Linked DNA regions of Homo sapiens: region 1 is linked to region 2. Evidence: fine-mapped expression QTL. A gene starts in region 2. The other region holds a variant in brackets. All regions are shown on one strand. Distances are between the middles of the regions.

The links. PIP is the estimated chance that this variant, and not a neighbour inherited with it, causes the effect.
Region 1: its variant is the best candidate, but not a certain one, in a credible set for the expression of PNKD in whole blood (INTERVAL, PIP 0.60).

Annotation. Positions count from the first base shown.
Region 1 is chr2:218,360,438-218,365,805 of GRCh38, forward strand. It overlaps CATIP (ciliogenesis associated TTC17 interacting protein), which reads left to right. Exons shown (of 10, transcript NM_198559.2): 5 at 136-222; 6 at 2,298-2,465; 7 at 4,191-4,315. Among named protein-coding and RNA genes, the nearest start is that of CATIP-AS1, 4.8 kb to the right of the region's middle. The variant G/A (reference allele first, on the strand shown) is at 2,957.
Region 2 is chr2:218,267,923-218,273,290 of GRCh38, forward strand. PNKD (PNKD metallo-beta-lactamase domain containing) reads left to right here and starts at 2,597. Exons shown (of 10, transcript NM_015488.5): 1 at 2,597-2,680; 2 at 3,459-3,627. The coding sequence starts at 2,614. AAMP (angio associated migratory cell protein) reads right to left here and starts at 2,215. Exons shown (of 11, transcript NM_001087.5): 1 at 2,044-2,215; 2 at 1,460-1,612. The coding sequence starts at 2,164. RefSeq lists enhancers at 508-1,393, 1,962-2,281, 2,432-2,811, 2,842-2,891.

The sequences.
Region 1 (5,368 bases), 93 kb after region 2:
CTGTGCCCGGCCCGGCTGCTTTTTTTTTAAGTCACAATCTTTAAACCTCAGTTTTCTCATTAATGGAGAAGGGTCAGGTGACCTCTGGGGGACCCAGGGAGTCCCTGATCCTCCCCCGCATGCTCTGGCCCTCAGTTCCTCATCCTCCCCATGGAACGGAAGATGAGTTTGCTGAAGCAGGATGATCAGCTGGCTGTGACCAGAAGTATCAAGGAGGGTGAGGTAAGGATGAGAGCCAGATGGGAGTTGCACTACACACTGTGAACCCAGAATATCTGAGACAGGTCCAGATCAATTTAGAGAGTTTATTTTGCCAAGGTTAAGGACGCGCACATGACACAGCCTCAGGAGGTCCTGAGGAAATGGGCCCAAAGTGGTTGGGGCACAGCTTGTTTTTTTTTTTTTTTTTTGAGACAGAGTTTCACATTTGTTGCAGAGGCTGGAGTGCAATGACGTGATCTCGGCTCACTGCAACCGCCACCTCCCGGGTTCAAGTGATTCTCCTGCCTCAGCCTCCCGAGTAGCTGGGATTATGGGCATGCACCACCACGCCCGGCTAATTCTGTATTTTTAGTAGAGAGGGAGTTTCATCCCTGTTGGCCAGGCTGGTCTCAAACTCCCGACCTCAGGTGATCCGCCCGCCTCAGCCTCCCAAAGTGCTGGGATTACAGGCGTGAGCCACCACGCCCAGCCTACAGCTTGGTTTTATACATTTTAAGGAGACACGAAACATCAATCAACACGTGTAAGATGTACACTGGTTCACCAGACGTAAAAATACAAAAAATTAGCCAGGCGTGGTGGCAGGCGCCTGTAGTCCCAGCTACTCGGGAGGGTGAGGCAGGAGAACGGCGTGAACCCGGGAAGTGGAGCTTGCACTAAGCTGAGATCACGCCACTGCACTCCAGCCTGGGCGACAGAGCAAGACTCCGTCTCAAAAAAAAAAAAAGATGTACATTGGTTCATTGGAAAAGGCAGGACAACTCGAGGCAGGGAGGGGGCTTCCAAGTCATAGGTAGATAAGAGACATGCTTTTAAGTTTCCGATTAGCCTTTCACTGAATACACAATTTACATGCTATGGGGGTTAGAAAAGTAGTCACTTATGCCTTACTCTGGCTTAGTGAAACAATAGAGCAGAGAAAGCCATCAGATATGCATTTATCTCACGTGAGCAGAGGGATGACTTTGAGTTCTGTCTGTCCTTTGTCCACAAGGAATTTCCTTGTGGGCAAATAGTGAGGGAGTTATATAGCTTTTTTTTCTCTTAGTAGCTACCTTGTTTAGGAATAAAATGGGAGGCAGCTTTGCCTGAGGCAGTTCCCAGCTTGACTTCCCTTTGGCTTAGTGATTTGGGGTCCCAAGATTTATTTTTCTTTCACAATGTCCTCTTCAGAACTCTGAGCGGGGACCAGATTAGATGAAGCCAGGAGTCCAGACTAACGATTCATTCATTAGGCTGGGCGCGGTGGCTCACGCCTGTAATCCCAGCTCTCAGAAGCAAGAGGCAGGAGGATAGCTTGAGCCTAGGAGTTCGAGACTTGCCTGGGCAATATAGCGAGACCCCGTTCTCCAGAAAAAGGAAAAAAAAAAAAGACAAGGATTCATTCATTAAAAACCATATGACCGGCTGAAGGCCAGGCGTGTGGTGACTCACGCCTGTAATTTCAGCACTTTGGGAGGCCAAGGCGGGCGGATCACTTGAGGTCAGGAGTGGAGACCAGCCTGGCCAATATGGTGAAATCCCCTCTAATAAAAATACAAAAATTAGCTGGGCGTAGTGTCGTGAGCCTGTAATCCCAGCTACTCAGGAGGCTGAGGCAGGAAAGTCGCTTGAACCTGGGAGCTGGAGGTTGCAGTGAGCTGAGATCGCACCACTGCACTCCAGTCTGGGCAACAGAGCAAGACCCTGTCTCAAAAAAAAAAAAAAAAAAGGCTCACGCCTGTAATCCCAACACTTTGGGAGGCAGAGGGGGCCTATCACCTCAGGTCAGGAGTTCAAGACTAGCCTGGCCAACATGGTGAAATCCGGTCTCTACTAAAATTACAAAATTTAGCCAGGCATGGTAGCCTGTAATCCCTGCTACTTGAAAGGCTGAGGCAGGAGATCGCTTGAACCAAGGAGGCGGAGGTTGCAGTGAGCTGAGACCACGCCATTGCACTCCAGCCTGGGTGACAAAAAGCGAAACTCTGTCTCAAAAAAAAACAAAACCGTATGCCCAACACCTGGCTTGCCCACCCTCCTGTCCCCTGCCCCTTCCTGGTTCCAGGACCCTGACCCAGATCAGTTCTGAACAGGAAGTGAAGACTGGAGTGACTTCTTTCCCCTGGAGCTCAATCAAGGGCTTCATCTCAGAGGCTGCCAACCTGGTGCTGCTCAGGGTGATGGCCTGGCGGCGGATGGTGCCCAGCAATGCCCGCTTCCTGACCTTGGACACCGAGGGCAAACTCTGCTATTTGACCTATGTAAGGGGTCCCCTTGGGCAGGGGACTTGGCTTGGGAGCGAACTAGAAAAGGCGTGAAAAGCACTGAGATGGGGAACAGCTGTGGAGTAGAAAAGGGAGGCAGGTGGGGAGAAAACAGCACAGGTGGGAATGGGGCTTTCAAGGGCAGGAAAGCATGTTTGTCTGGGAGTGTGGGGCAGATGAATTGAGAGTGACTGAGAAGTGGGAACAGTTCAGAGAAGCAACCCTTCCGCACAGAAGTCAGTCCAGGAAAAATAAATATAGTGCAGGGCTGATTTAAAAAATACATCATTTTGGGCCAGGTGTGGTGGCTCACGCCTGTAATCCCAGCACTTTGGGAGGCCAAGGCGGGCCGATCACAAGGTCAGGAGATCTAGACCATCCTGGCTAACATGGTGAAACCCCGCCTCTACTAAAAATACAAAAAAAAAAAATCAGCGGGGCGTGGTGGCAGGCGCCTGTAGTCCCAGCTACTCAGGACGCTGAGGCAG[G/A]AGAATGGCGTGAACCCGGGAGGCAGAGCTTGCAGTGAGCCGAGATCGCGCCACTGCACTCCCGCCTGGGTGACAGAGCGAGACTCTGTCTCAAAAAAAAAAAACAAAAAAAAAAAAACGTCATTTTGGCCAGGCGCAGTGATTCATGCCTGTAATCCCAGCACTTTGGGAGGCCAAGGTGGGCAGATCACTTGAAGTTAGGAGGTCAAGATCAGCCTGGCCAACATGGTGAAACCCTGTCTCTACTACAAATACAAAAATTATTAGCTGCGTGTGGTGGCAAGTGCCTGTAATCCCAGCTACTCGGGAGGCTGAGGCAGGAGAAGCATCACTTGAACCCAGGAGGCGGAGGTTGCAGTGAGCTGAGATCGCACAACTGCACTCCAGCCTGGGCAACAGAGGGAGACTCTGTCTCAAAAAAATAAATAAATAAAAATAAATCATTTTTTAACTTTAGGAAGTGTAACATGTCCAACTTTACTGAAATATTCCTTTATTATTTCTTAACCCCAAAGGGTGTTCCGTTTTTGTTTTGTTTTTTGTTTTTAACTAAAATTTCATAATCAGCATGCCTAGGACTTCCTGCAATCAGTGATTTTAAAGCCATGCCACTGAACACACAATTTCCAGTGAGACACTTTGGGGGCTGATTTGTGTTTCTTTGACCATCTTTGTAAATTACATTCCAGGCTTGTCTATCAAAACACACCAAGCAGCAATGCATTTGACATGAACAAGCACAATCCATTCCCCTCCGTGTTCTTTGAAACATGTGTTTAACATTAGCACTTTTTTCTCCATAGCTGCAGCTACAACAGGGGTTTAAGTTTTAATCACAACAGGGACAGCCTGCCAGCAACAGCACAGGTCTGAGGTGGCCACAAATCTGTCTGGTCTCACACCTCTGAGCCTCACTTTACCTCCACCCACTGGCCCTAGTAGCTCATCCTACCTCTCCGCTCCCACACCCCCCCGCATACCGCTTCTCATCCCTGTAACAGAATTTGCCAACTAGAAGCACCTGGTCAGCGAGATGACATGGGAGGGGTCAGGGCAAGGGCAACCTGGAGCTAGCTCCCTATGAGGGGTCGCCAACTCAGCTTGGAGGTTTGGAGATGCAATATTAAATGTCTTGAGGTTGTTATGAGATGGAGAAAAGGCTAAGGTAAGATGATGGGGAGCCCTTGGCGGGCATCCACCTTACCTCCCACCCCCCAATTTTGGCTGTTGCCAGCAAAACCTGGGCTTCCAGACCATCCAGGTAGACCATCAGCAGGCTGAAGTCTTCATCGTGGAGCAGACTGTCCACGCGGAGGAGGGCATCCCCATGTCCTGCCAGTACTACCTGCTCTCCGATGGGTGAGCTGCTGATGGTGGGCCCAGAGGGGTGGTGCTGAGCTTGTAGGTGCTCAAGGAGACCGGCTGCTTCTGGGGATAGCACCAGGAAGAACTGGCATTGAGATAGGAGTGTCCCTCCGCTTTATCCATATCATTCACTCTTTCTTCATTTATTTGCTCGTCCTCTTAACCCTCACAGTGCCTCCCAAACCTTCTCACTGCACACCACAGGCCTGGGGTGTAGCTAGTGCAGCCACCACTGTGTAAGGGATAATACTGAAAAACACCAAGGTCTGAATGACTGCACACTTGATGAAATCACTGTGCTGGAAGAATTGCCTGTGGCAGGCTGCCGTGCAGTCTCCAGCAAAGCACTGGCTCCAAATCATAAGAAAATTCAGGGCTGGGCGTGGTGGCTCACACCTGTAATCCCAGCACTTTGGGAGGCTGAGGCGGGCGGATCATGAGGTCAGGAAATTGAGACCATCCTGGCTGACACGGTGAAACCCCATCTCTACTAAAAATACAAAAAATTAGCCAAGTGTGGTCGTGGGCGCCTGTAGTCCCAGCTACTCTGGAGGCTGAGGCAGGAGGATGGCGTGAACCCAGGAGGCAGAGCTTGCAGTGAGCCGAGATCGCGCCACTGCACTCCAGCCTGGGTGACAGCAAGACTCCGTCTCAAAAAAAAAAAAGAAAGAAAAAGAAAATTCAGGTGGAAGAAAGAGTTTCTTTCTGTTTTTTTGTTTTGTTTTGTTTTTTTGAGACAGACTCCAGTCGAGTTTATTTCTTAAAATTTCAGAATAGATATTCACATAATCACTACACTGGGGAAAAGGTAATCAAAACATTGTTGGCTTTATCTCATAACTTAGTATGTTTTCGGTTTTGGTGCGATCATAGCCCACTGCAGCCTCCAACTCCTGGGCTCAAGCAATCCACCTGCTTCAGCCTTCCTAGTAGCTGGGACTACAGGTATGCACCACAGCTCCAGGCCAACCTTTTTATTTTGAATGCCGCATAGCAGGAGATTCCATAATTTTTCTTTTCTTTCTTTCTCCTTCCTTCCTTCCTCTT
Region 2 (5,368 bases):
GGTTGGGTACAGAGCGAGGAGAGCATCACGTTAAGGGTTTTTTGTTTTTTGTTTTTTGTTTTTTGAGACAGAGTCTTGCTCTGTCGCCCAGGCTGGAGTGCAGTGGCACAATCTCAGCTCACTGCAACCTCCACCTCCCAGGTTCAAGCAATTCTCCTGCCTCAGCCCCCTGAGTAGCTGGGATTACAGGCGCCCGCCACCACAACCAGCTAATTTTTGTATTTTTAGTAGAGATGGGGTTTCATCATGTTGGTCAGGCTGGTCTCGAACTCCTAACCTTCTGATCCACCCGCCTCGGCCTCCCAAAGTGCTGGGATTACAGGCATGAGCCACCGTGCCTGGCAACAGTTTCTTACTAAGAACTAGCACTTGAGAAAGTTATATAAAATATGCTCAAAAAGATATAATTATCTCTCATTTTATTTTATTTTTTTGAGATGGAATCTTGCTCTGTCGCCCAGGCCGAAGCGCAGTGGCACAATCTCAGCTCAATGCAACCTCTGCCTCCCAGGTTCAAGTGATTCTCCTTCCTCAGCCTCCGGAGTAGCTGGGATTACAGGCACATGCCACCACACCCAGCTAATTTTTTTTTTATTTTTAGTAGAGATGAGGTTTCACCATGTCGGCCAGGCTGGTCTTGAACTCCCGACCTCAGGTGATCCACCCGCCTTGGCCTTCCAAAGTGCTGTGATTACAGGCATGAGCCACCGCACCTGGCCAATTATCTCTAATTTTATACTCACTACTTTTATTAACTTTTATCAAAGATAACTTTTTTTTTTTTTTTTTTTTTGGAGACAGACTCTCATTCTGTTGCCCAGGCTGGAGTGCAATGGCGCAGTCTTGGTCCACTGCAACCTCCGCCTCCCGGGTTCAAGCAATTCTCCTGCCTCAACCTCCCGAGGAGCTGGGACTACAGGCGCCCGCTACCACGCCCAGCTAATTTTTGTATTTTTAGTAGAGACGGGGTTTCACCATATTGGCCAGGCTGGTCTGGAACTCCCGACCTTGTGATCCGCCTGCCTGGGCCTCCTAAAGTGCTGGGATTACAGGCGTGAGCCACCATGCCCAGCCAAATTTTTGTATTTTTAGTAGAGACTGGGTTTTGCCATGTTGGCCAGGCTGGTCTCGAACTCCTGACCTCAAGTGATCCACCTGCCTCAGCCTCCTAAAGTGCTGGGATTTCAGGAGTGAGCCACCACGCCCGGCCAAAGATAACTTTTTAAAAGAAAACTAAGAGGTTAATCAAGGTTAACTGGCAAAGTAGAGGGTGTCTCGACTGATGCCAGAAGCCAAGCAATCATCCATTCTGCCACACTTTCCCACCTGTGGGCTCCTCCAGCGCAAGGCCAGCATCTTGCCCATCTCTGTGTCCCCCATAACGTTCTGTCCATGGCTGATGTTTAATGCTTACACGCCCACCTAAACTGATTTGAGGTGGATCGCCTCAAAGACCTACCTGAGTGCAATGCAAAGGTGACCTCGCTATCGTCGGGGCCCTCCATGCTGCCGACCACCCCTTCCTGGGGTTCTAGAACCCAGCCCTCTTCGTTGCCCTCTTCCTCCTCTTCTTCCTCAAAGTCCACATCTTCCATCTCCTGGGCCAGGTCATCTGCTTTGGGGAGAGGGTTAGAAGATGGGGCTCGGGAGGCGGTAAGAGGTACGGAGAGAAGCATGAGGAGGCCTGAGGCTGGGGCGGGTCATGTGGCGAGAAGGGAAGGTGGAGTCAGACACACCGGGGTCCGCGGGGGCGCGCGGGACACAGGACGGGAGGCCACGGCTGGCCAGAGACCGTGCGGTAAGGGAGGGCCAAGGGGATGATGGGAAGGGGGTGTGTGAGGGGAAGGGCCAGAGGAGGCGTCAGGGAACCCCCACCCCAGCCAGGCCTGAGAACTAAGTGTGAGGGTGGGAGTGGGGGAGGAGGGGAAGAGGGATATCGGTAGGAATGACCAGTCGGGTGTGGAGGGGAGCGGGGAAAAGCAGGAGTCAGAGGCCAGGGGTGAGCGTCTCCTGTCCCATGGCCTGAGGAGCGGCAGTTCTCACCTGGGTCCGGCGGACCGGGATCAAGTTCTACCACCTCGATAATCTCTTCATCACCATGGAAGCTTAGGGTCTCCAGTGGGGGGGTGTCAGCAGCAGCCCCGCTTTCCGATTCGGACTCCATGCGGCGCAAGCGGCGGATCCACTTCTCTGGGCCCAAACGCCTCCCAGAGTCAGCTCTGCGCGACGACGCGGAACTCGAGCCCCTCCTCCCGGCAGGAAGTAGGCGTAGGCGACTCCCCAGCAGGAAGAGCGACGGCCGTTCGGCCAATAGCTACGAAGGTTGGCTGGCCGCCTCACCAATCACAGAGCGGCATTGGAAGATGGGGCCGGGGCGTGGCGGAGAGAACCCAAACTCCGCCCCACCTGACTCCGCCCCCAACTGGAGGGAAACAAGCGAGCGCGCGCGCCTCCGGGGTCTCCTGGGAAGAGTAGTTCTCCTGGGTCCGCTCTGCGGGCTTCTGGGAGATGTAGTTTCTGGTCTGTAGGCAGGACGGAAGGAGCGGGGGAGGCCCCTTACGCAAACTACAATTCCCGGCGGGGAGCGCGGTGAAGCGGGGGTGGGATCTGAACATGGCGGCGGTGGTAGCTGCTACGGCGCTGAAGGGCCGGGGGGCGAGAAATGCCCGCGTCCTCCGGGGTAAGGAGAGGGACCCCGGGGAGGGCAGGACTGCAGAAGATCCCTTTTCTTTCACGTCCAGCCCGACGATAGCAGGAGGTCAGGGCTCTTGGTTCCTCCCCACACTTTTCTGCAAGATCTTAGAGTCTGGGGGTGCAGAGATGCTCTTTAGAGGTCACCCAGTGCATCCCCCCGCCTTCGGGTTGCTCGACACCTCCGGGGTCTTGCTGCAAGAGGGAGCTCCTAGGAAGCCTGTTGGACTCCCGCGCTCCAGGTGTTTCACACTCACCGCAGTGCAGAGGAAAGAGCCCCGGGCTTCTGGAGGTTTGAGTTCCAGCCCCGGATAATTAGCAGTTTGACCTTGGGCAAAGCAGTTTTTCTCTCAGGGCTTCAGTTTCCTCTTCCGTACAGTGCAAGGGATGGAGTAGACTATCTTTAAGGTCCCTTCCAGTGCTAACATTTGCAGTTTCAAAACCTTTTCCCGGATTTCCTTCATACGTCTTATGTGAGTCCCACTGCAGTCCTTCCCATGCTGTCGTCTGAGGAAGAACAGCGAAGCTTTTCGTCCTGGCACCAGGGTGATGAGCCCGCAGTGACGTGGAAGTGGCTTCCAAAGGTGCCACCTCGGTGGCGATTTTCCCATTTCCCTTTGGATTCTCCTTGGCACTTCTTACTTCAGACTGCAGTCACTCCCCTTCCCCAGATCTCAGCCGCTCCTCCCAAGCCCTTACTGCCCCCCACCTCCCCGCTTGCTTTCTTCTCATCTCTTCTTACTGACCTTCCTTACCTCCATCCACAGGGATTCTCGCAGGAGCCACAGCTAACAAGGCTTCTCATAACAGGACCCGGGCCCTGCAAAGCCACAGCTCCCCAGAGGGCAAGGAGGAACCTGAACCCCTATCCCCGGAGCTGGAATACATTCCCAGAAAGAGGGGCAAGAACCCCATGAAAGCTGTGGGACTGGCCTGGTGAGTTTTAACCACCCCTTTGCCCACCAACGGGGCGTGGCTTGTAGGGGAGGGCAGGACTTAGAAACTTCTCCAAGTTTCAGGTGGCGAGCTGAATCCAAAGTTGTGGGAACAGAATTGTTGGGTTCGATTGGAATCTCAGAGGGGTGGGGCAGTGGAGGTGGGAAAGTATGTGGAATTGAGAAGACAGTGGGTTTACTGTGGAGTAAGCTGAGTTGATCTGATTCAGACTTGGGTCCCTGGCCTCATCCTCCCTTTTGGGAGCTTGGAGTGAGACCCAAGTTTAAGTAAGTAGTTCGTTGAGATCATGTGAGCTTGTACTAGTTGTATAGTAGTACTCAGAAGGCGTTATGAACATTGTGATTGGGCTCTGACTCTGACCTTAATACATATTATTGACCAATATTAAAGAGAAAGGAGGAAGAAATCAACATTTTTTTCTGCATGTGAGGTGTGCCAGTACTTTGCCATGTAATGTTTTAGTGTTTGAGATAAGTATTACATCCCCATTTCACAGAGGAAGGAACTGAGACTGAGCTAGGATTCTCACCTAGTCTGTGACTCCATGCTCTTTCCCCCATACCAAAGTGCCTCCCAAGCAGTGGTTACTTAGCTTAAGAGGGGAAAACTGGGAGGGTACCTTGGCCAAGTCTCAGAGAGGGAAAGCGTCAGGGCTGCCTGGAAAATCCTGCACAGGTGCTGTTGCAGGAATGCAGGGCTCGTGCTGAGGATCAGGCTCTAGGCGGGAGGAGGAAAGAGGCAGGCAGAGACCCAGCCACACTGGGCCTTTTGTGCCATGTTTGGACTTGGCCAGGAAGTGATGGAGTTACGGGGTTTTAAGCAGGGAAGTGACAGGATCTGATTTGTGTGGGTCCCTCCAGCAGCCAGCACAGAGGATGAATAGACTATAAGAGGTATTGCAGCATTCATGCAACTGATGAAGCTAGAATGACTCCCCCCAGCTCCTCTGGCTCAGGCTTGGCCCCTCCCCAAACCCCGTGCACATCTCCCCACCCGTAGGGCCATCGGCTTCCCTTGTGGTATCCTCCTCTTCATCCTCACCAAGCGGGAAGTGGACAAGGACCGTGTGAAGCAGATGAAGGCTCGGCAGAACATGCGGTTGTCCAACACGGGCGAGTATGAGAGCCAGAGGTTCAGGGCTTCCTCCCAGAGTGCCCCGTCCCCTGATGTTGGGTCTGGGGTGCAGACCTGAGGAGCGCTGCGACCCTCCTAGGCTATTGACTGTTAAGTCCTCAGGTTTGGCCCAGATTCCAGTTCGTGCCTCTGAGGTCCACCAGAGGGCGCATGAAGCCCAGGCTGTTGCCAAACCCTACCCTGCCCCACACCAAGGAGCCAGCCAAAGGCAAATAAAGTTATTGAGTGTTTAGTAGAAAGGAACCAGGTCTGGGTTTGTGAGTCCCTTGGGATGGGAGGGGCAGAGGGTGGGGCTGGTTACTCATGTGTGCTCCCTCTCACAGAGCTCAGTGTTCCCAGCTGGATGGTGGGGCAAACCCAGAGACTTAAGTGCAACCAGCCTAGGCCCCGGGCCCTCGGGACCAAGCCCTCAGAGCTGCCGGCCAGGAGGGTGGGGTCCCGCTCAGCCTTGAAACAATAAAGAGAATCAAAGAAGGTATTCAGGGTGTGGAGGCAAAAAAAAGCACTGCTCTTTACTGAGTCCAAATGACTCGACTCTGGGCCTCAGTTTCCTCATTTGTTTTGTTTTTTGTTTTTTGTTTTTTGA